Regions from separate parts of the Homo sapiens genome. Here region 1 is linked to region 2. Evidence: fine-mapped expression QTL. Tissue or cell type: whole blood. Region 2 holds a variant in brackets; the other region holds the start of a gene. All regions are shown on one strand. Distances are from middle to middle.

What was found. PIP is the estimated chance that this variant, and not a neighbour inherited with it, causes the effect.
Region 1: AASDH starts here. The variant in region 2 is fine-mapped to the expression of AASDH in whole blood (INTERVAL, PIP 0.97).

Annotation. Positions count from the first base shown.
Region 1 is chr4:56,383,377-56,393,929 of GRCh38, reverse strand. AASDH (aminoadipate-semialdehyde dehydrogenase) reads left to right here and starts at 6,439. Exons shown (of 15, transcript NM_181806.4): 1 at 6,439-6,568; 2 at 9,589-9,860. The coding sequence starts at 9,631. PPAT (phosphoribosyl pyrophosphate amidotransferase) reads left to right here. Exons shown (of 11, transcript NM_002703.5): 11 at 1-568. RefSeq lists enhancers at 6,095-6,144, 6,007-6,513, 6,175-6,544, 6,514-7,021.
Region 2 is chr4:56,347,894-56,358,446 of GRCh38, reverse strand. AASDH (aminoadipate-semialdehyde dehydrogenase) reads left to right here. Exons shown (of 15, transcript NM_181806.4): 6 at 3,024-3,265; 7 at 3,636-3,742; 8 at 4,236-4,408; 9 at 4,851-5,043; 10 at 6,990-7,105; 11 at 8,389-9,184. It also overlaps the pseudogene RPL7AP31. Among named protein-coding and RNA genes, the nearest start is that of AASDH, 34 kb to the left of the region's middle. The variant T/C (reference allele first, on the strand shown) is at 5,090.

The DNA.
Region 1 (10,553 bases), 35 kb before region 2:
CTTTAAGCCCACATGCAGCAGTGGGTCAGATAACCCTGTGGCAGTGACACGGGCAAATTGGCATTTGAATAAAGCCCTGGGACCACCTCAACATGCGTAGCCTCTTGTCTTAAATGTACTCCCCATGGCAGCATGGAGGAGGCAAGACCTGTGGGTCAATTTTGAACTGGCCTTACTTTGATTTTTAAAACAAGAGACTCAGGGAAAGTACTAAACCAAAATCTCTGATTTTACTTTGCGTTTTCTGTAGTTTTTGTTTTACTGAGATGCTTTTGTAAAGGAAAATAATACTGTGACAGTTTAGTAATTCTACAGATTCTTAATATTTCTCCATCATGGCCTTTTACTTCACAATTTTCTGAAGTCTGAATTCAATTACAATTTTTTTTTACCAATTTAATCTCAAATGTTGTTTAACTGCTTTAAATTCATATACGTAGAGTATTATAAACTGCAGAGATGAAAAATGTGTTTTCACGGGATTTATATTGTGAACTAAACTAAGCCTACTTTTTGTGACTTATTTGTGATGCCTTGTTGATAAATATGTGTAATAAGTATGTTTAAATATGTGTGTCCTTTTTTTTTTTTTTTTAAATAGTGACTTTAGTTAGTGCTTTATGGTAAACAGCATGGAGACAACTTCCAGGCTCCATTCTTGGCACCAGCTAGTCATATCTTATTTCTCTGATCCAGGCATTTCAATAAATAGGCCATCTCTTATGAACCAGGCAAAACTGCTGGTTGACTATGAGGGACAAATTAAGTAATTAGAAAAGCAGTACTAAGTAAGCACTACATCGTGGCAAGTTCCTAGGAAGCACTATGGGGAAAGAGGGAGTGTCATGGAAGAGCAGGATTAGATTCAAAGTGTCAGGGTGGGTAGGTAAATGAATAGATAAACTGTAGTACATTCAGACAATAGAATATTATTCAGTGCTTAAAAGAAATGAGCAATCAAGCCATTAAATGACAGAAGGAACATAAATGCATATTAACTAAGTGAAAGGCACCACTCTGAAAATACCACTCTGAAAATATTGAAGGTATCCAAAGAAAAAGTCTCCCATGTTAAGGATAAACTGGTCACAGACAAGAAAGATTACTAGTAGGGCACCTGCCAGTGTTAAGAAAATTTCTGTGCAACTAGGTAAACCTTGGTCGCTGGACTGGATCTTTAATTCTTCTAGGTTCCTCCAATCCAACTTTCTTCCATAGAATTACTAAAAACGAGACTTGCTATGTTCTTAAAGCCCAAGCTCAAACTTAACTGAATTTTAAGGGAGAAATCTCATGCCCAAAGGTTCACAAAACTGCCCAATGCTATAACCAGAGACATTAAAACTGTAAACCAGAATGAAAAGCTAACATCTCCATACTGTGGGCAGCTTTTCCCAAGATGATGGAACATAACTCCCCATCCTAATGACACTCTTGCCCCTCTTAATTCTTCCTTGTTTATGCCTACCTCTTTGATTTGGCAGGATAATTTCACAATCGGTAGATATTGTGGGTGACTTGACAGAATCTGACTTCATAAATCCTTTAGTCCACCCAGGGGGTAATACTGGCAACATCCTCAGTAAACTTTTTGTTCAAATTGTACTAATGGTCTTTTTTAAAACAGAGTTAGCTCTCTCTGCTTTAATTCAAGCCAGTCATGGAATGCTAAGTAATAGGATTGCTGTGTACCAGCTAAACAAAGAGATGTCTGTGCTTTTGCTCATACTACATGCTGTACCTGGATACATTCCTTTGGGGAATTTATATACACAAAATAAGAAAATAGCCCACATGGTATAATAAGTCTCACCTAATTCTTCATGATCATTTGATTTATTCAACTGGTTGTCTTTAAGCCTAGGTTCACGGCTGAAAACTATTATGCTGAGATTGTTACTTTGTATTTTCTTTTTTTTTTTTTTAAGAACTTTATACCTGTTTCTTGTCAAATTTGCATAGAAATGCAACTCCTAAGAGAATAATGCTCTCCCAGCACTTTGAGATGATAGACAGTGCCTATGGAACAGACAGAATTGAACTTAACAGTGGACTCCAGGTAGACTTAGCCTGAGATCCACTCCCTCCAAACCTCTTTTGTTGTTCAAATGTGGCTAAAGGGTTTTGATGCTAATTCCTAGTTACCAGTGACTCCCTTCAACATGAGGGCAGACTGGCACCAAGAGATATCAAAACCTAAATACAGGATGATTGATCAGTGATGCTTTTGAGAAAGACCTTGATCAAAAGGGGAAATGTGAAAGTTGTCAGATTCAAAATGGAGTCACTCGTATTAAAACCCTGGCAAACGGAGCCAGGAAACGCCATGAAGGGGAAGGGTTCTCATGTACATATGGTTGATAACAAGAACTATCAAAAGACTACAAAAATTTACAACCTGCACAAAGGCCACCACAACCTTAAACACAACACACACACACACACACATACTTCTGCAACGACATCTGCCTAGCAACTGCCTATCTAACTTATGGACTGACACCACCCTTACCACGCTTGTTATTGTTAAAACAAACAGTGAGGTTTATTTTTATTTATTTATTTATTTTTTGAGATGGAGTCTCACTTCGTCACCAGGCTGGAGTGCAGTGGCGCAATCTCGGTTCACTGCAACCTCCACCTCCTGGGTTCAAGTGATTCTCCTGCCTCAGCCTCCAGAGTAGCTGGGACTACAGGCGTGTGTCACCATGCCAAATTAATTTTTATATTTTTCAAAGAGACGGTTTCACTGTATTGGCCAGGATGGTCTTGATTTCTTGACCTCGTGATCCACCTGCCTCGGCCTCCCAAAGTGCTGGGATTACAGGTGTGAGCCACCACCACTCCTGGCCTTCCAGTGTACTTCCATAGTTACATATTCTTTCCTCGTGCCCTGTGAAGAGGTGCCTTCCACCATGATTTTAAGTTTCCTGAGGGCTCCCCAGCCATGTGGAACCGAGTCAATTAAACCTCTTTTCTTTATAAATTACCCAGTCTCAGATATTTACTTAAAGCAATGTGAGAACAGACTAATACACCTGTCAAAACACCAAGCCTGAAAAACTCAACCACTAATTTGCTCTCTGCCTTCTCCTGAGCAGCTGAACACTTAGAGTAACTCACACAATGCCTTATTATCCCAACTGTGATATGTGGTACAACAGCACATAACAGGAGGACCTAACCTTGTTTCAGGTAGGGTCAAGGATTTTCCAAATTATTTTTGAACTTTTTAAGGAAACAATGACATTGACAACTGAGAGATAAGCCTTAAAATAAGTAGAGTGTGCCAGTCAAGGTACAAAATATCAGCAGGGTACAGGGTGGGCATTTGATATTTCCCTGCAACTGGAACAGTGTAAGTGGATGGAGCTGAGTAAAAAAAAAAATAGTTTGGGAAACAAGCGCCTAAGACATGAATCCCTGCTATAAGGGTGCTATTTAGTATAGGAGGTCAGATTTGGAAATAATGCAGCAACAGTAACAACTGATGCTGTAAGAAATATATGTCGCTGTCTGGGAAGGGTCTGGTATTGAAACCTATTTTAAAGTTAGTAAGATAGCCTGTTAACTGTTTTATGGCAGTAAACTTGGATTCCTGGGTGACAAAGAACTTTGTAATTTATGGCAAAAGCAGAAGCCAGAACTTCATGTTTATGCATTTTCCATGTCCCCCAAGTCCCACCAGGATGGTGAAGATGGGCTTCCATGGATGTCTGCACATGCAGTCAGTGGGTTACATTATAGGAGAGGAATACTGAGTTTGGGGGATTCCATACTTTTGTAGTTAAGTGGAAGCAAGCCTACTCTTTGGGAAGAATACTTCAGCTATGAAACTGATCATCCCAAACAACCCTGAAAAATGATCTAGGTAAAGAGCAGTTAGGACCTTACATTCTTGGCAAACCCAGAATTTGCAGGTCCCATGACAAATGACCCCTCCCAAGAGTATGATGGGTTCGTGGGATGGAGTTTGGAGGAGTCTGGATAAATTATTCTTTAGGGCTTGAAGAAAGGCATCACTGAGGAAGTCATGTTTAAGCTGTATTTTCATCAAGCAGGCATGGAGAAAGAAGGGTATTTCAGCCTGAGCCCAGCCAAAACAGGTGTGGAAACATGATAAGGACTTTGTATTCTCAGAACTCTTACTAGCCTTTCATTATGACTAGAGTTTACAGTATCAGGTGTGGGGAATGTGGAAGATGGGTGGGGGAGCAGTGGCCTGCTGTGAGATATCAGGTTGGAAAGAAAATGAACTCTCTTGTTTACCTTGCTGAAGAGTCTGAATGTTATGCAGGCAACGAGGGATCATTGAAGCTTCTTATTCTCATAGAAGAATGCTATGACTGATCTGGTATATGTTTTAGAATGATCACCTTGGATTATCAGGTAAAAATGCTGTCTTAAACATAGTGTTCTACATTTGCTCCCTAAGACTCCCTGAAAATGACAGTAACAGGATTTTTAAAGTCATACACCCTTAAGGATTAAAGAAAAGGAATAATGGAAATGAAATTCTGGAATCAATAGCAAAGGGCTCAGTTGACTTGAAAAACCTGAATTCTAAACCCCCAGTGAGCAAAACCAACAAGCAATTCTATTTGTATCACAGAACCCCCTAAAAAACTAAGAAACTGGCTTCAGGAAGTAGAAGTGAAGAGGGTACCTAAAAGGACTGGAAGTTCATTTAGGAGAGTGTTATATCCTTTATGCCACCCCCGGCCCCCGCCTTATTCTGAAGCCTTTTTTTATTGCTCAGGAGTAAAACGGGGTCTCTGTAATGGAGGACATCAGGCACCTAAAACAAAGAGAATTAAGTGAAAATTGTACTAAATTCTGAGACATACCGCAGCCTCCATACCCCTCCTCTCCCACTTGATTTTCAACAAACGTCCCATGGGCTCAACAGCTTCCAATCAACTTTTAAATATACCCCCACTTACATATGAGCAGATAAGGACCACCAGACATCCTAGGAAAGCCTCTAATGTGAAAGATAGAGCACAAAATCAACAGAAGAAAAAAAAAGGAAACTTGAGGGAAATAGATACTGCAAGGGAAGAAAAACTTTAAAAAAGGTATCATTAATATCAGAGAGTTGGATGATGATACTGGAATAATAAAACATCATTTTGGCAGCAATTCAGAGTCAATCAGAGGCAAACAAAACTGAAAACGTTTTAGGAAAAAGCTGACCAAGAAGACCTGAACTAAAGTAGCAGTAATGGCGATGAACATGACACTTAAAAAACGCAGGTTCTAGGCCCCTCACTAGAAAACTAGGGGATGAACCTCCGGGGATGGAGTCCAGGAATTTGGAATCTTCTAAAACATCACCACCGGCAATTCTGATGTAGCCAGCTGGGTGCTGGTCTCAAGACTGAGAACTAGAGGACATAGGGTCTAATCGGATGTAAGAGGTTAAGAAAGTGGGAAGGTTGATAACTGTCTGGCTGGGTGGATGATGGTGTCATCCCAACGTAGAAACATAGAAACATAGACAAGATACACTTTTGCCCACTTCCAACCTAAATACATAAATAAGGCTGTGTTAGTTTGAGTAGTCCATGGTACATCTTGGAAAAGTATAGTTGGCATGTGGAGATATTTTTTGCTTAGATTAGAAGCACAGTTTCTTGTCACCAACAACTACGGCTGCGAGAGCGTCCTATGCTTTTTTCTCACGTACTGTTTTGATGCAGAGCTGTCTTCGCAGTCCCTCCCCCGGCTAAAACCCCCCAAACAAAAAAATCCCGATTATTCTGCCACCAGACAGTAGCTTTAAAACACCTCTGTTATTGCCCTTGACGCTTATTGTAATAATTGACATGTCTCCAACTGTAACAATTCCCTTGGAAACAGAAAGTTCTATTCAGGCATATAGTTTACAAAACTCCACCTCGGACCTGCTTTAATTTCTTTACAGGTCCTACTAAATGCTCCTGTCAAATTCCTTAGTTATCGTTTCAATCTGCTTCCCAATTAAAATGTCAGCATCATGATGACAGGAACGTCGTTTGCAGGCGTCACTGCTGCAGCCATATCTCCAGCACGTTTCCAGAAAATGTCATTGGTTGAAAGCAATAACTCTCCTATTTCACAATGATTTCATCTCTCTTCACATCAACCCTAGGTGATGTTTTTATTCTCACCTTATGAACGAGAATACTGCGGCTCAAAATTCAAGAGTCTTGCCCAGAGTTTTTTGGCAAGTACGAAAGGGTTATGGCTCCAAACTGGTTAGCTCCGAAGTCCTTGCAAACCCTGTCCGAGACCATGCGCGACCCCAAGGAGCGCCTGAGCAGATAACCAAAAGTGAAAAAGCCTATAGACCTCTTCACTCAAGTTAGCGCCTCGGCTTCAGGAGAGGCAGCGCCAGCTCCACGCAGCCGGCCCGGGGTCGCTCGCACTGACGTCACGTAGCGACGCGGAAGATTTACGTATGGTGCCTCGCTCTGGGATAGCTTTACGGCTTCTGGGAGCTGCTGCTTCGCTGTGAGAAGTATCCGCGACGAGCTATCCGGGAAAGGGCCGAATGCGATCAAACCTAATCCGCGAGACTTGCTAAGTGAGTCGCGGCAGGGCGCGGTGTCCGGCGGGGGTCTGTGTGAAGGAGGCGAAGTGCCGCTAGGCCTGAGCCTGCTTCCACATACATTTGCTCAGCTTCAGGACCACTGCCTGACCTCGGATTTGATACATCGGGGTCTGGCGTGCTGGTGTGGTGCAGACTAACCCTGACCTGTGTGTACACTCCTGCGTCACTAGCCTCCGCCCCTCCATTCAAATGGAAATAAGTGTGCTCCGCGCTCAGCTACCCCCTAGAGTGGTTTCGAAGAGCAATGAAGAAATGTTTAGGAAGCTGTAAATTGCATTGTTACTCGTTGCATACCGTAAATTTAGAAGCCGGGGAATTGGGAAAATAAAGTTTCTAGATTATTTATCCATTTTTAAAACAGCCAGTGGCCTAGAGAGAGGCCCCATAGCAATTGAATTTGCTGACACTCTTAAGATCTTTGTTGACTAAATAGCAGCTTCTACAGTTGTAGCAAGTAAATTTATTCCTTTTACATGTAAAATCTGCTTACCAGAGTTTGCTTTTTTTTTTCCTTTTTTTTTTTTTTTTTTTTTTTGAGACGGAGTCTCGCTCTGTCGCCCAGGCCGGACTGCGGACTGCAGTGGCGCAATCTCGGCTCACTGCAAGCTCCGCTTCCCGGGTTGACGCCATTCTCCTGCCTCAGCCTCCCGAGTAGCTGGGACTACAGGCGCCCGCCACCGCGCCCGGCTAATTTTTTGTATTTTTAGTAGAGACGGGGTTTCACCTTGTTAGCCAGGATGGTCTCGATCTCCTGACCTCATGATCCACCCGCCTCGGCCTCCCAAAGTGCTGGGATTACAGGCGTGAGCCACCGCGCCCGGCCTTTTTTTCCTTTTTAAGGTCTCAAACATTTGGGCATTAATAAGTTTAGTATTCTCTACTGCAGAGAATGTTATTTGTGATTCAATGAATGAAAATGAAAACCTGAGACAAGAAGAATGGATTTTACCTTAAATGTCTGTAGCAACCATTGGGAAAATGGAAAGAAACATCTTAATTATCGTATAGATGTGTAGGTACCCTTCTGCGCTACCTGTATGTTGCGAAATGAACTCATTCCTCATAATTTAAGCGCCTGCTGCAGAAAGCCTCCCTTATATTTACATAATGATCATTGTATGTCTGAGGAAAGCTTAAAATTGTATCTTGTGCATTAAAAAGAGCTAATATTTATAGAAATGCCTACTAAAAATAAATAATGTAAGTACTAAAGTTGCCTTATATGTTTAAACTGTATATTTAGAAATCACAGCATTTTCAAACTTATGGGTCTTGGCAGTTATTGGTTCATTTTACTCTCTTTAGGATTTCTTTTTCCTAATTGATGTTAATTAGTTGATATAAATGAAAATTTTGAGTCAGGAAATCAATTCAAATAGGTGTGAATAAATTAAAAAAAAAAAAAGAAAGAAAAGAAAACTTGACTCGGCCGGGCGCGGTGGCTCCGCCTGTAATCCTAACATTTTGGGAGGCCAAGGTAGGTGGATCACTTAGGTCAGGAGTTCAAAACCAACCTGGCCAACATGGAGAAACCCTGTGTCTACTTAAAAAAAAATAACAAAAACAAAAATTAGTTGGACATGGTAGCGCGCACTTGTAATCCCAGCTACTCGGGAGCTTGAGGTGGGAGAATCGCTTGAATCTGGGAGGCAGAGGTTGCAGTGAGCCGAGATCACGCCATTGCATTCCAGCCTGGGGAACAGAGCGAGACTGTCACAAAAACAAACAAAAACTTTACTGAAGCAGGCTACTTGGTAAGTCTTAATTGCTTTAAAATATGGAAAACAGAGTTCAGAGAGGGAAAAAAATAACTTTCACCTTTAAGGAAACACTGTGAATTTTTTTTACCGTTGATCCCGAGTGTTTCTTTCTTGAAATACTGTTTCGAATCTTTTAATATAATCTGCATTAAGAAACCCAGAGAACATTGCATTGATATACTGCTTTATTGAGTTGTAATATTATATTTTCAGTCTAAGTGAACTTATTGGCAATTTAAAAATAAACTATACAGTATGAAGAGTTTACTTCTTGACAATTATACAAGTATGACTTCTGTAAAATATTAATAGTATAGTAATAAACACTGTTTTTATATATAGTTGTCTAGAACTGAATGAATAGGAATAGGGTTTTTTGCTTTCTTCTGTCAAAGATTGATTTTGCTTTCATCTGAGTTTAGCTCCTACTGGAATTTAAAAGCAAAGTTTATTTACATTAGTCATTTTATTTTATCTTTATTTCATTTACTTATTTATTTTGAGATGGGGTCTTGCCCTGTCACCCAGGCTGGAGTGCAGTGGTGCCGTCTTGGCTCACTGCAACCTCTGCCTCCTGGGTTCAAGTGATTCGCCTGCCTCACCCTCCAGAGTAGCTGGGATTACAGGTGTATGCCACCTTGCCCGGCTAATTTTTGTATTTTTAGTAGAGACAGGGTTTCACCATGTTGGCCAGGCTGATCTTGAACTCCTGACCTCAAGTGATCCACCCACCTCGGCCTCCCGAAGTGCTGGGATTACAGGTGTGAGCCACCGCACCCGGCCACATTAGTAATTTTAAAGTCACCATACAAGATTTTGACTACTCTATCTTAACAAATCTGTAACAGTTACTGAAGGAAAGTAAAAAAAAATTAAGTGTGGGGTCCTTTAAATTTGATTTTATTGATTAATTTTTTATATATTTCATATTTACATTGTGGTCCGTTGAGAGAGAAGTCTCCATTTTTACCTGCTTCATTTTCATCTGTGTATACCACTGCCCTCCCAAATTTTTTTGATGCTCTGACCCAGCATAGGTTGATGTATCAAGTTAATTTTCAACCTCATTGTCCTCAGTAAAGTTACCATAATTTCATAAGTTCAGAGATTCTTCATTTATATATCTTTGATATAATTATTTTTGTGAGATATTATTGTAGAGAAGTTTTTCCCTGTCCCTCCACCGAGCTCTCTAAAACTCCCTCTCCCCCTAACACTTCTGTATATACACAGGGTTCTGTGCTACAAATTGATGTTTAGATAAACTTCAGTGAAATGACTCTTCAGGAATTGGTGCATAAGGCTGCCTCCTGTTATATGGACAGAGTAGCTGTATGTTTTGATGAATGCAACAACCAGCTTCCAGTTTACTACACCTACAAGACTGTGGTTAATGCTGCTTCTGAATTATCAAATTTTCTGCTGTTACACTGTGACTTTCAAGGAATTCGGGAAATTGGTCTCTACTGCCAACCTGGGATAGACTTACCCTCTTGGATTTTAGGGTAATATTTTTTAGAACTGTAAATTTGATGTTACTCCAAGCTAATGTAAATTTTTAATAGAGTATATTGCAAGTTATTGTTCTGTTTACTATTGGACTTTTCTATATTGTTTGGTCAATTGTAGAGAGACTAAAGAAGTTTGCATTTCCCCAGTATTATTTTTATATTATTTAAATTAATTATTCTGAGCTTATTTAGGAAAGACTAGAAGCTTTCACTAATAGAACGTATAAGTATCTCCAAAATGTAAGGGCTTCATTAATCTGTTAAAGGAAAACAATTATAACAATTTATAACACTTTGTTGTTAGATAAAAGAAAACAGGATTTCACAGATAACATGACTATGTTTTTTGTCCGCAACTGAAATTTGAGGCACTAAGGTATTCAATAAATCAGTAAATTAGAGTTTTGGATAATAGTTGATATAGATTGAAATATGAACCCATTAGAAGACACTATTCCAACAAATATTTGCAAAATGTTCAATCATTTAAATTGTTCTAGAATGTTATCCTCATATAGTGATTTCTATTCTAGAACTCTGCAGTAAGTATAAACTGCCAAAGAAATAGTTTATTCATTCTATAATATGTGTCTTAGTAAATTAATTATATAAATATAAAGCAAAAGATGTTCAAAAATTTACTTTTGGCCAGGCACAGTGGCTCACACCTGTAAATCCCAGCACTTT
Region 2 (10,553 bases):
GACTGAATGCTTTGACCCTAAGATTGGGAACAAGGCAAGCAAGTTTGCCTTTGCCACTTCAACATTCTGGTGGTTCTTGCCAGTACAATAAGGTAAGAAGGAAAAAAACTAAAGATACTTACATTGGACAGGAGGAAGTACAACTCTTTATATGCAGTTGATGTGATCCTGTATATAGAAAATATTGTAGAGGGGTGGGGCTGGTGAGGAGGACTACTAGAAATAATAAAGTTTAGTCAGGTTGGAGGATAGAAGATCAATATACAAAAATCAATTGTATTTCTATATATATATTTGTACATATATATGTATATGTATTAAAGAAAAATCTAAAAATGAAATTAAGATAATATTTACACTAGCATCAAAAAACAATAAAATAGGAATAAAGCTAAAGAGCAAGATTTGTACACTGAAAACTATAAAGCATTGTTGATAGAAATTAGAGACCTAAATAACATTTTGTCTTTATAGATTAGAAGTTTTAATATTGTTGAGATTGCATTTCTCCCCAAATTGATCTGTAAATTAAACACACTTCCCAGCAAAATCCAGTAGGCTTTTTTGTTAGAAATGAATAAGTTGATCCTAAATGTTATATGGAACAGTGAAACCCAGTCCTGATCCATACTATAGAATACCACTTAGCAATAAAAAGGAATGAAACTGTTGATACACTTAGCAGCATAGATGAATTGTATCTATTATGTTGAGTGAAAGAAGGCAGGCCAAAACAGGCTACTTATTTTATGATTCCATTTATATAAATGGAATATATAATTTCTATTCATAATTATATATAATTATATATATAATTTATATTAATGGAATTATACAAGATTATTCTGATCTGTAGCGACAGAAAATAGATCAGTGGTTGTCTGGATAAGGGGTCCAGTTGGAGAGGAGACTAACAGTGGTACACAGGTAGTTTTGGGAGTGATAAATATTGCTGTCATCTGAATGTTTGTGTCTCTCCAGAATTCATATGTTGAAATCTAATCCCCAATCTGTTGGTATTAAGATGTGGGGCCTTCAGGAGATCACTATGTCATGAGGGTGGGAACCTCATGAATGAGATTAGTGCTCTTATAAAAGAAGCCTGAGGTTGCTTTTTGGTTCCTTCTACCATGCGAGAACACAGCAAGAAGGTACCATCTATGAAGTAGAGTACTCACCAGACACTAAGTCTGCCCATACCTTGATCTTGGACTTCCCCATCTCCAGAACCGTCAGCACTACATTTCTTACCTAGTCTACAGTATTTTGGTTATAGTAAGCCAAATCAACTAAGACAGTTATGTTCATTATTTTGATTGTGGTGATGGTTTTACTAGTATATACATAAAACATATTAAATTGTATACTTAAAATAGTTTATTATATGTCAGTTATATCTCAATAAAGCTTTTGTTATAAATCTTTATTCATTATTGTTTTACTTAGGCACATTTTTAAAGGAAAATTTCTATTATTTTAATTATTTTTATTTACAGAAAACTCAGCAGTGTACATTTAACCCAGTTTAGTGGCAGGTTCTTTAGCGTTTGCCTTTTCGAGCTTGGCGATGCGAGCCACAGACTTGGGAGCCAGGACATTGCCGCCCCAGTGACGGTGGATCTCATCGTATCTGTCATTGTAATTGGTCCTAATAGCTTCCACTAGCTTAGCCAAAACGCCTTTGTCTTCCAAGTTAACCTGTGTGAAGGCGACAGTGGTACAGGTCTTCCTGTGGACTAGACATCCCAGTCTTCCCTTCCCCTTGATAATGCAATAAGGGACCCCCATTTTATGACACAGGGCAGGCAAGAAGACAACCAACTCGATGGGAGCCACGTGTGCAGTCACCACCAGCTGAGCTTTCTTTGTTCTCCACCAAGGTGTTGATGGTGTTAACTCCTGCTCGAAGGACAGGTGGTCTCTTACTGGGGACATCCCCTTTGCCAGCAGCTTTCTTCTCAGCCCAGGTCAACAGCCTCTGCTTCTTCTCTTGCTTTGTCTCTGGTCTGTACTTGTGGGCCAGCTTAAGCAGCTGAGTAGCTGTTTGGCGGTCCAGGGCCTGGGTGAACTGGTTAATCGCAGGAGGCACTTTCAGCCGCTTATTGAGGGATGGCTCTCTGCCGCTGCAACCTGATAGAGCAGGGCTATTTCACAAAGCTGGTGAGGTCTCTTTTGGGCTGGATGTCTTGCTCAGTGCCAAAATTCTTAGGCCTTTTCTCAAACAGGGGATTCACCACTTTCTTGTCCTCCTGCTTCTTCACAACAGCAGGGGCCAGAGCCACCTTCTTTCCCTTGGCCTTTCCTTTTGGCATCTTGGACGGCGGGAGGAGAGAGCTACTTAGGCACATTTTTAAACCCTTTTGTATACTTTTTATACAGAGTAAGAAAGGAAAGGTAAATTGATTTTATAGATTTTGTCCTTTTTATCCTAAACCTTTTTGTGTAATCAGTATGATGAAATATAAGTAATATTTTTGCTTGAGTTTTTTTCTAAAGCATAAGTGATACCCACATTAGGAAGATAATGTTGGGCCAGGCATGGTGGCTCATGCCTGTAATCCTAGAGCTTTGGGAGGCCAAAGTGGGAGGATTGCTTGAGCCCAGGAGTCCAAGACCAGCCTAGGCAACACAGGCCCCATTTGTACAAAAAATTTTAAAAATTAGCTAGGTGTGGTGGTACGTGCCTGTAGTCCCAAGCTGTTCAGGAGGCTGAGGTGGGATGATGACTTGGGCCTGGGAGGTTGAGGCTGCAGTGAGCCATGGTCATGCTATTGCACTGCAGCCTGATCAACAGAGTGAGACCCTGTCTCAAAAAACAAACAAACAAAACCAAAAAAAAAAAAAAAAAAAAAACAAGAAGATAATGTTGCACCAGTAGTTTTCCAAATGGGATTTCCCATTTGATAAACACAGCCTTCATTTCCATGTGGGCTCCAAATGTTAACTTTGAAATAATAACTACAGTGCTTACCTTTTTAAAGAAGTGAAGGAAAATAAATAAATTATTTTTAATGTATCTACAGGCAACACCAACATTGCTTAGAAGATTTGGATCTCAGCTTATCAAGTCAACTGTTTTGTCAGCCACTACTTCTCTTCGAGTATTAGCCCTTGGTGGTGAAGCGTTTCCATCATTGACAGTTCTCAGAAGCTGGAGAGGAGAAGGCAATAAAACACAAATATTTAATGTTTATGGTATCACAGAGGTATCAAGTTGGGCGACCATTTATAGGATTCCAGAGAAGACTCTTAACTCTACTCTCAAGTAAGGGTTTTCATTGTACTATATAGAGAAGAGAGACTGTATATTTCTAGGATCTTAACACTGACAGTGTTTTTGATAGGTGCTGGGGTAATAATTTTAGAAACACGATTGTATCTGATATTTTAAGTTGGGAATCCAGAACCTTCCTTACTATAGCTGGTGCCAAGATACTGCTGCAACTTTTTGTACTAAATAGTAATGAATAACATATATGGTTACCTTTCCACCTAACCTTTTCCTCTTGTCAGTCTTTGAATTAGAGCGTAACAAACTTTTTTTTCTTTATTTGGTACAGTATGATTTAAATATATTGGAAAATATTCTATTCAAATGAAAAATTTTAAATCTGCTCTGTATCTTATTTTCATAGATGTGAATTGCCTGTACAACTGGGATTTCCACTTCTTGGAACAGTAGTTGAAGTCAGAGATACTAATGGCTTCACAATTCAGGAAGGCAGTGGCCAAGTATTTTTAGGTTGTTTTATATTTGTTGATTGGGAATTTTTTTTTCAAGAAAAATGATCTGATGTGTTAATTTTATTCCTTTCGTCTTTTTCTTTTGTCTATCTCATGCTTTTCAGTGATAATTTTTATTCTCATTCATATAGTCATGAAATACCAAATGTTACAATAATTATTTCAGATAATAATGTCTAACACATTAATAAAAGTAATTTAGAGACTGTAACTTGGACCTTCATATTTATATTTATAGCCAAAATTATATTTAATCAGTAGTCTAAGAATTTTTTTAATTCCATAAATTTTAAGAAATAAATTTCATTTTATCTCTGCTTATTTACTGAACTTATTGTGTCTGATTTTATCAGATAACATTTTAAAATGAGCCCATCTTTTAATATTTAAATTTTGAAGTTTAGTCACTGAACTTTTGGAGATGTTGATTTTATGGTTTTTAATATATTTCCCTTGGATTTTTATGACATTGGTGTTTATATCTTGGGAAGGTGGCAGAAACAGAGTGTGTTTTCTTGATGATGAAGTGACAGTACCACTTGGCACAATGCGAGCTACAGGAGACTTTGTGACTGTGAAAGATGGAGAGATTTTTTTTTTGGGACGAAAAGACAGTCAGATCAAACGTCATGGCAAACGTCTTAACATTGAACTTGTGCAACAGGTAGAACTATTTAAATATTGAATATCTATTAATATATGTAAGTAGTAGAAGCAGCCACCACCAATTTTCTGTGCTGGGGTCTCTATTATTTACACCTGACATTTTTGTGTTAGTGATGAATTACAATAAAGGGTATGAATAATTCAGGGTGCCCCTTATCCCCAGCATGAAGAGATGGTTATTCTTTAAATAAGTGACAAATTAGATTTTGATATTTGTGAAATTTAACTGGCTTATTTTGCTTTAGGATCTATTATTTTGAAAAATATTATGAACCCTATGTGCAAGTAATAGTAACAGTAGCAAAGCAATTTTTTAAAAATCTCCAGTATATTCCAAAATTTAATTCAGCTGTTTTGATTTCAGACATTAAAAAAATAAGCTTTTAGGAAGCTTGTTTGTAAATATCCTCATTGGCAAATTAGGATAATCTCTCTTATAGGTTGCTGAAGAGCTTCAGCAAGTGGAGTCTTGTGCAGTTACATGGTATAATCAGGAAAAATTAATTCTCTTCATGGTGTCTAAAGATGCTTCAGTAAAAGAATACATCTTTAAAGAACTGCAGAAATATCTTCCAAGTCATGCAGTCCCGGATGAGCTTGTATTGATCGACTCTCTACCATTTACATCCCACGGTAAAGTAATTTAAAGCAGATATGTTTCAGTGCCAAATAATACTAA[T/C]TGTATTCATAACTAGCTTAATGATAACATAAATCTTTATTTTTATAAATGGTACTAGCATTTATTGTGATAGACCCTCTTTTGACTGCTTTGTCTAATTAATTCATTTTATCTTCAGAAAATCCTGTGGATAGGTGGTATTATTCCTATTTACAGATGAAGAAAATAAGGCTTAAAGAGGTTAAGTAGTTAGGTGAGGCATGGTGGTCAGCGCCTGTAGTTTCAGCCACTCAGGGAAGCTAAAGTGGAGGATGCTTGAGGCCGAGAGTTTGAGGGCACAGTGTGCTATGTTTGTGCCTGTAAATAACCACTATACTCCAGCCTTGGCAACATCTAAAAAAAAAAAAAGAGGTTAGGTAATTTTCCAAAAATCATTTTGCTAGTTAGTGGTTATATTAGTATAGTAGTCATGGTTCTCCAGAAACAGAACCAATATATAGATAGATAAAATATTTATTGTCAGGAATTTGCCCATGCAATTATGGAAGCTAAGAAGTCTAATATCTCCCTTTGGCAAGCTGGAGACTCAGGAAAGTCGGTGCTGTATCCAGTCTGTGTCCTAAGGCCTGAGAATCAGGGGAGCTGATGATATAAATCCCTGTTTGAGGACAGGAGGAGATGAGATGTCCTAGCTTAAGCAGTGATGCAAGAAAAAGGGTGCAGGCCAGGGGCGGCAACTCGCGCCTATAATCCCAGCACTTTGGGATGCCAAGGCAGGTGGATCACTTGAGGTTGGGAGTTTGAGACTGGCCTGGCCAAAATGGTGAAACCCTGTCTTTACTAAAAATACAAAAAAATTAGCTGATTGCAGTGGTGCACGCCTGTAGTCCCAGCTACTTGGAAGGCTGAGGTGGGAGGATCGCTTGAACCCAGGAGGCAGAGGTTGCAGTAAGCCGAGGTTGCGCCACTGCACTCCAGCCTAGGCAACAGAGTGAGACTCCATCTCAAAAAAGAGAAAGAAAAAGCATGCAAATTCTTCCTTTCTCTGCCTTTTTTCTATTTTGGCCCTCAACAGTTTGGATGATGCCCAATCTACTTTACTGAGTCCTTAATTAGTTTCATCTACTAATCTCATCCAGAAGCACCCTCACAGACCCAGTCAGAAAAATGGTTAATCTGGGCACCCTGTGGCCCACCCACATTGACACATACAATTAACCTATCACAGTGATAGAATTGATATTCTGTCTAGGACTGTTTTTTATTTTAATTTTATTTTTATTATTGTTTGTTTTGTCTGTCTAGGACTGTTTGACTTCAAAATATATAATCTTAATCACCATATTATATTGCCTTCCCAATTTCATTTTTATTTAATATATACTTCAACATGCAGTAATTGCTCAGGTAATGGAACTATTTCCTTAACTCTTGAAATTGAGATAAATTGGATAAATATTAGCTCCTTTTTTCCTTTTTCTTTCTTTTTTTTTTTTTTTTGGAGATAGGGTCTCACTTCTTCACCCAAGCTGGAATGCAGTGGTGCAGTCAGGGCTCACTACTGCAGCCTCAACTTCCTGGGTTCAAGTGATCCTCCCATCTAAGCCTCCCGAGTAGCTAGAACTACAGGCCAATTTTTTAATTTTTCTGTAGAGACAGGGTCTTGCTGTGTTGCCCAGGCTGGTCTTGAACACCTAGCCTCAAGCGATCCTCCCACCTCAGCCTCCCAAAGTGTTGGGGTTACAGGACTGAGCCACTATGCCTGACCTGTTTCTCATCTATTTCTCTGTATATTCTTGGTAGTATCAGACAACTTTTTAGAATTGATTGTTGACAACAAACTCTTTATATGATTTCTGTGTTGTACAAAGAAAAATGTATATGGCTAATGAATATATAAAGGCTTTGAGTGAAATTTTAAAATGTTTTAAAACATTTGTTATTTCTCTTTTATATTAAGGCAAAATTGATGTTTCTGAGTTAAACAAGATATATTTAAACTACATAAACTTGAAGTCTGAGAATAAGCTCAGTGGGAAAGAGGACCTTTGGGAAAAATTACAGTATTTGTGGAAGGTACAATTTTTAAGTTATAAAATTATTATTATAAAGAGGTCGTTTTATATCTTTAGGGACTGCTATTATCCTAACAAGTTGGATAAAATTTTCTGAGAATGTTATTGCTACCCAGATGTTAGGTAGTATATCTTCATTTATCCAATTTGTATTAAAATGAAGGTTAGATTCTCTACTATAAGACTAGATTAAGTTTCCGACAAAGAAATTTATTGAAAGTGAAGTAGTCATAAAAGGCACAAGTAGACAAAGCCTGTTTTGACATAACTTTTCTCTAAGAGGATCGGTGGAATGTAGTAACACTCTTGTCAGAGCTGAGAAAATAGCCAAATCTTGCTATAGCACAGTGCGTTGTCTGTTATACTTAGGGCTTACATCATTATTCTAAAAGAACTTTCAGTAACAATATTTATTTCTACTTGAGAGAGTTTGTTTAAAAATATATCTCAGTAAGTTAATAATTTTTCTTAAATAAAATGTAGATTTTTCTTTTTTAAAGGGTTCTGAAAAGAGGATGTAATTGTGTAGCCTTGTCTAAAAATAGAGGGTATCTAAGATAAAAGTCTCTTCTACTTCATTTTTAGATTCTTGGAAAGTAATTTTGCTTTATATGAAGCAGCCAAAGACAAATTATTCCCATATTATAGAAATATTGGCTATTGGTATCTTGTGGGCTTTATAATTAATAAATCAGATGTTTTTGTCCCAATTTTATGGGTAAGAAAACTGCTCTAAAGGGAAGTATATTTTGTACTTTTAGAGTGAATTTGTGACAAAATTGGTAGTACAGTGATCTCCTTTAACATAAATAAAATAATTTAAAACTTTATTTTTATTATTAAAAGTATTTATTTTATATTTCTAATTGTTATTATTATTATTATTTTTGAGATGGAGATTCACTCTGTTGCCCAGGCGGGAGTGCAGTGGCGCAATCTTGGCTCACTGCAACCTCCACCCCCTGGGTTCAAGCGATTCTCTTGCCTCAGCCTCCGAGTAGCTGAGATTACAGGTGGCTACCACCGCACCCAGCTAATTTTCGTGGTTTTAGTGGAGGTGGGGTTTCACTGTGTTGGCCAGGATGGTCTCGAACTCCTGACCTCATGTGATCTGCCCGCCTTGGCCTCCCAGAGTACTGGGATTACAGGCGTGAGCCACTGTACCCGACCTATATTTCTAATTATTAATGTAGGTACTCTCATCTCTATATATTACCTGTAAATGTTGAAGTCTTTTGCTTTTAGACCTTTACGTCACATATTTCTCTATTCTCTCATCTGTAGTCTACTCTGAATCTCCCAGAAGATCTTTTGAGGGTTCCTGATGAGTCACTCTTCTTAAATAGTGGTGGAGATTCCTTAAAGTCCATCCGGCTCCTCAGTGAGATTGAAAAACTTGTTGGTACATCAGTACCTGGGCTTCTGGAAATTATTCTCAGCAGTTCCATTTTAGAGATTTATAATCACATCCTTCAAACAGTGGTTCCAGATGAAGATGTGACATTCAGGAAGAGTTGTGCCACAAAAAGGAAACTCAGCGACATTAATCAAGAGGAAGCCAGTGGAACATCTTTACATCAGAAAGCCATCATGACTTTCACTTGCCACAATGAGATTAATGCTTTTGTTGTACTGAGCAGAGGGAGTCAAATTTTGTCTCTGAATTCCACTAGGTTTTTAACAAAGTTAGGACATTGCTCTTCAGCCTGTCCTTCTGACTCAGTTTCACAGACCAACATTCAAAATTTGAAAGGCTTAAATTCTCCAGTTCTTATTGGGAAGTCAAAAGATCCATCCTGTGTTGCAAAAGTTTCTGAAGAGGGGAAACCTGCGATAGGGACTCAGAAAATGGAGTTACATGTGAGGTGGAGGTCAGACACAGGCAAATGTGTAGATGCTTCACCGCTGGTTGTAATACCCACTTTTGATAAGTCATCTACAACTGTGTACATTGGTTCCCATTCTCATAGAATGAAGGCAGTTGACTTTTACTCTGGGAAGGTAAAATGGGAACAGATTTTGGGAGATCGAATTGAATCCTCAGCATGTGTATCTAAGTGTGGAAACTTTATTGTGGTGGGTAAGTTTTTGAATTTGAGGTTTGTGGAGTTAAATTGAATTACCATACAATAATCTTCATAGGCCCAAGTTAAATTTTTTAAAAATCTAAATATGATGGGTTTGGTTGCTGTCCAAAAATTATAGTTAACCCTGTGCTGATTAATATTGTGGGCCTTGGGGTCAAGAGTCCCTGGATTTGAACCTACCTGTATAGCTATTATGAACTCTGTGACCTTTGGCAAGTTACTGAACCTCTTAGAATTTCACTTTCCTTGTGGGTAAAATGGGAATAATAATAAAATGTGTTGCTGTATCACAAATACCCCAAAACTCAACAACCTAGAACAACACAAATTTATTGTCTCATAGTTTCTATGGGTCAGCAATTCAGGAGCAGCTTAGCTGGCAGTTCTGGCTCAGGGCTTTCACGTGGCTATAGCCATCTGAAAGCTTGACTTGGGTTGGAAAATCTGCCAAGGTAGCTCATTTACATCACTATTAGCAGAAAGCCTCAGTTCTTTGCTGATTCTGGCAGGAAGCTTCAATTCTTGCCACATACGCCTCTCTCTAGGCTGCTTGACTGCCCTTACAACATGGCAGCTAACATTCCTCAGAGTGATCCAGGAGACAGCAAGTAAAGAGGAACAGAGTACCTTTTATGACCTAGCGTTCCAAGTTCCATACCATCATTTTTTGTTTTCTTCTGTTAATTAGAAGGGCATAACTCAGCCAGGCGCGGTGGCTCACAGCTGTAATATCAGCACTTTGAGAGGCCAAGGTGGACAGATCGCTTGTGCCCAGGAGTTCGAGACCAGCCTGGGTAACATGCAGAAACTCTGTCACTACAAAAAATACAAACATTAGCTAGGCATGGTAGTACATGCCTGTAGTCCCAGCTACTTGGATGGCTGAGATGGGAGGATCACTAGAGCCCAGTAGGTTGAGGCTGCTGTGAGTGGTGATTGTGCCACTGTACTCTGGTCTGAGCAAGCAGAGCAGGACTCTGTCTCAAAAAAAAAAAAAGTGCATAACTCAGTTCAGGCCACATTCAAGGGGAAGAGAATTAGGCTCCACCTCTTGAAAGGAAGTACATCAAAGAATTCATGTACTTTTTTTTTTTTTCTTTTTTTTGAGATGGAGTCTGGCTCTGTTTCCCAGGCTGGAGTGCAGTGGCGCGATCTTGGTTCACTACAACCTCCACCTCCCGGGTTCAAGTGATTCTCCTGCCTCAGCCCCCTGAGTAGCTGGTATTACAGGCACATACCACCACACCCAGCTAATTTTTGTATTTTTTGTAGAGATGGGGTTTCACCATGTTGGTCAGGCTGGTATTGAACTCCTGACCTTGTGATCCACCTGCCTCGGTGTCCCAAAGTGCTGGGATTACA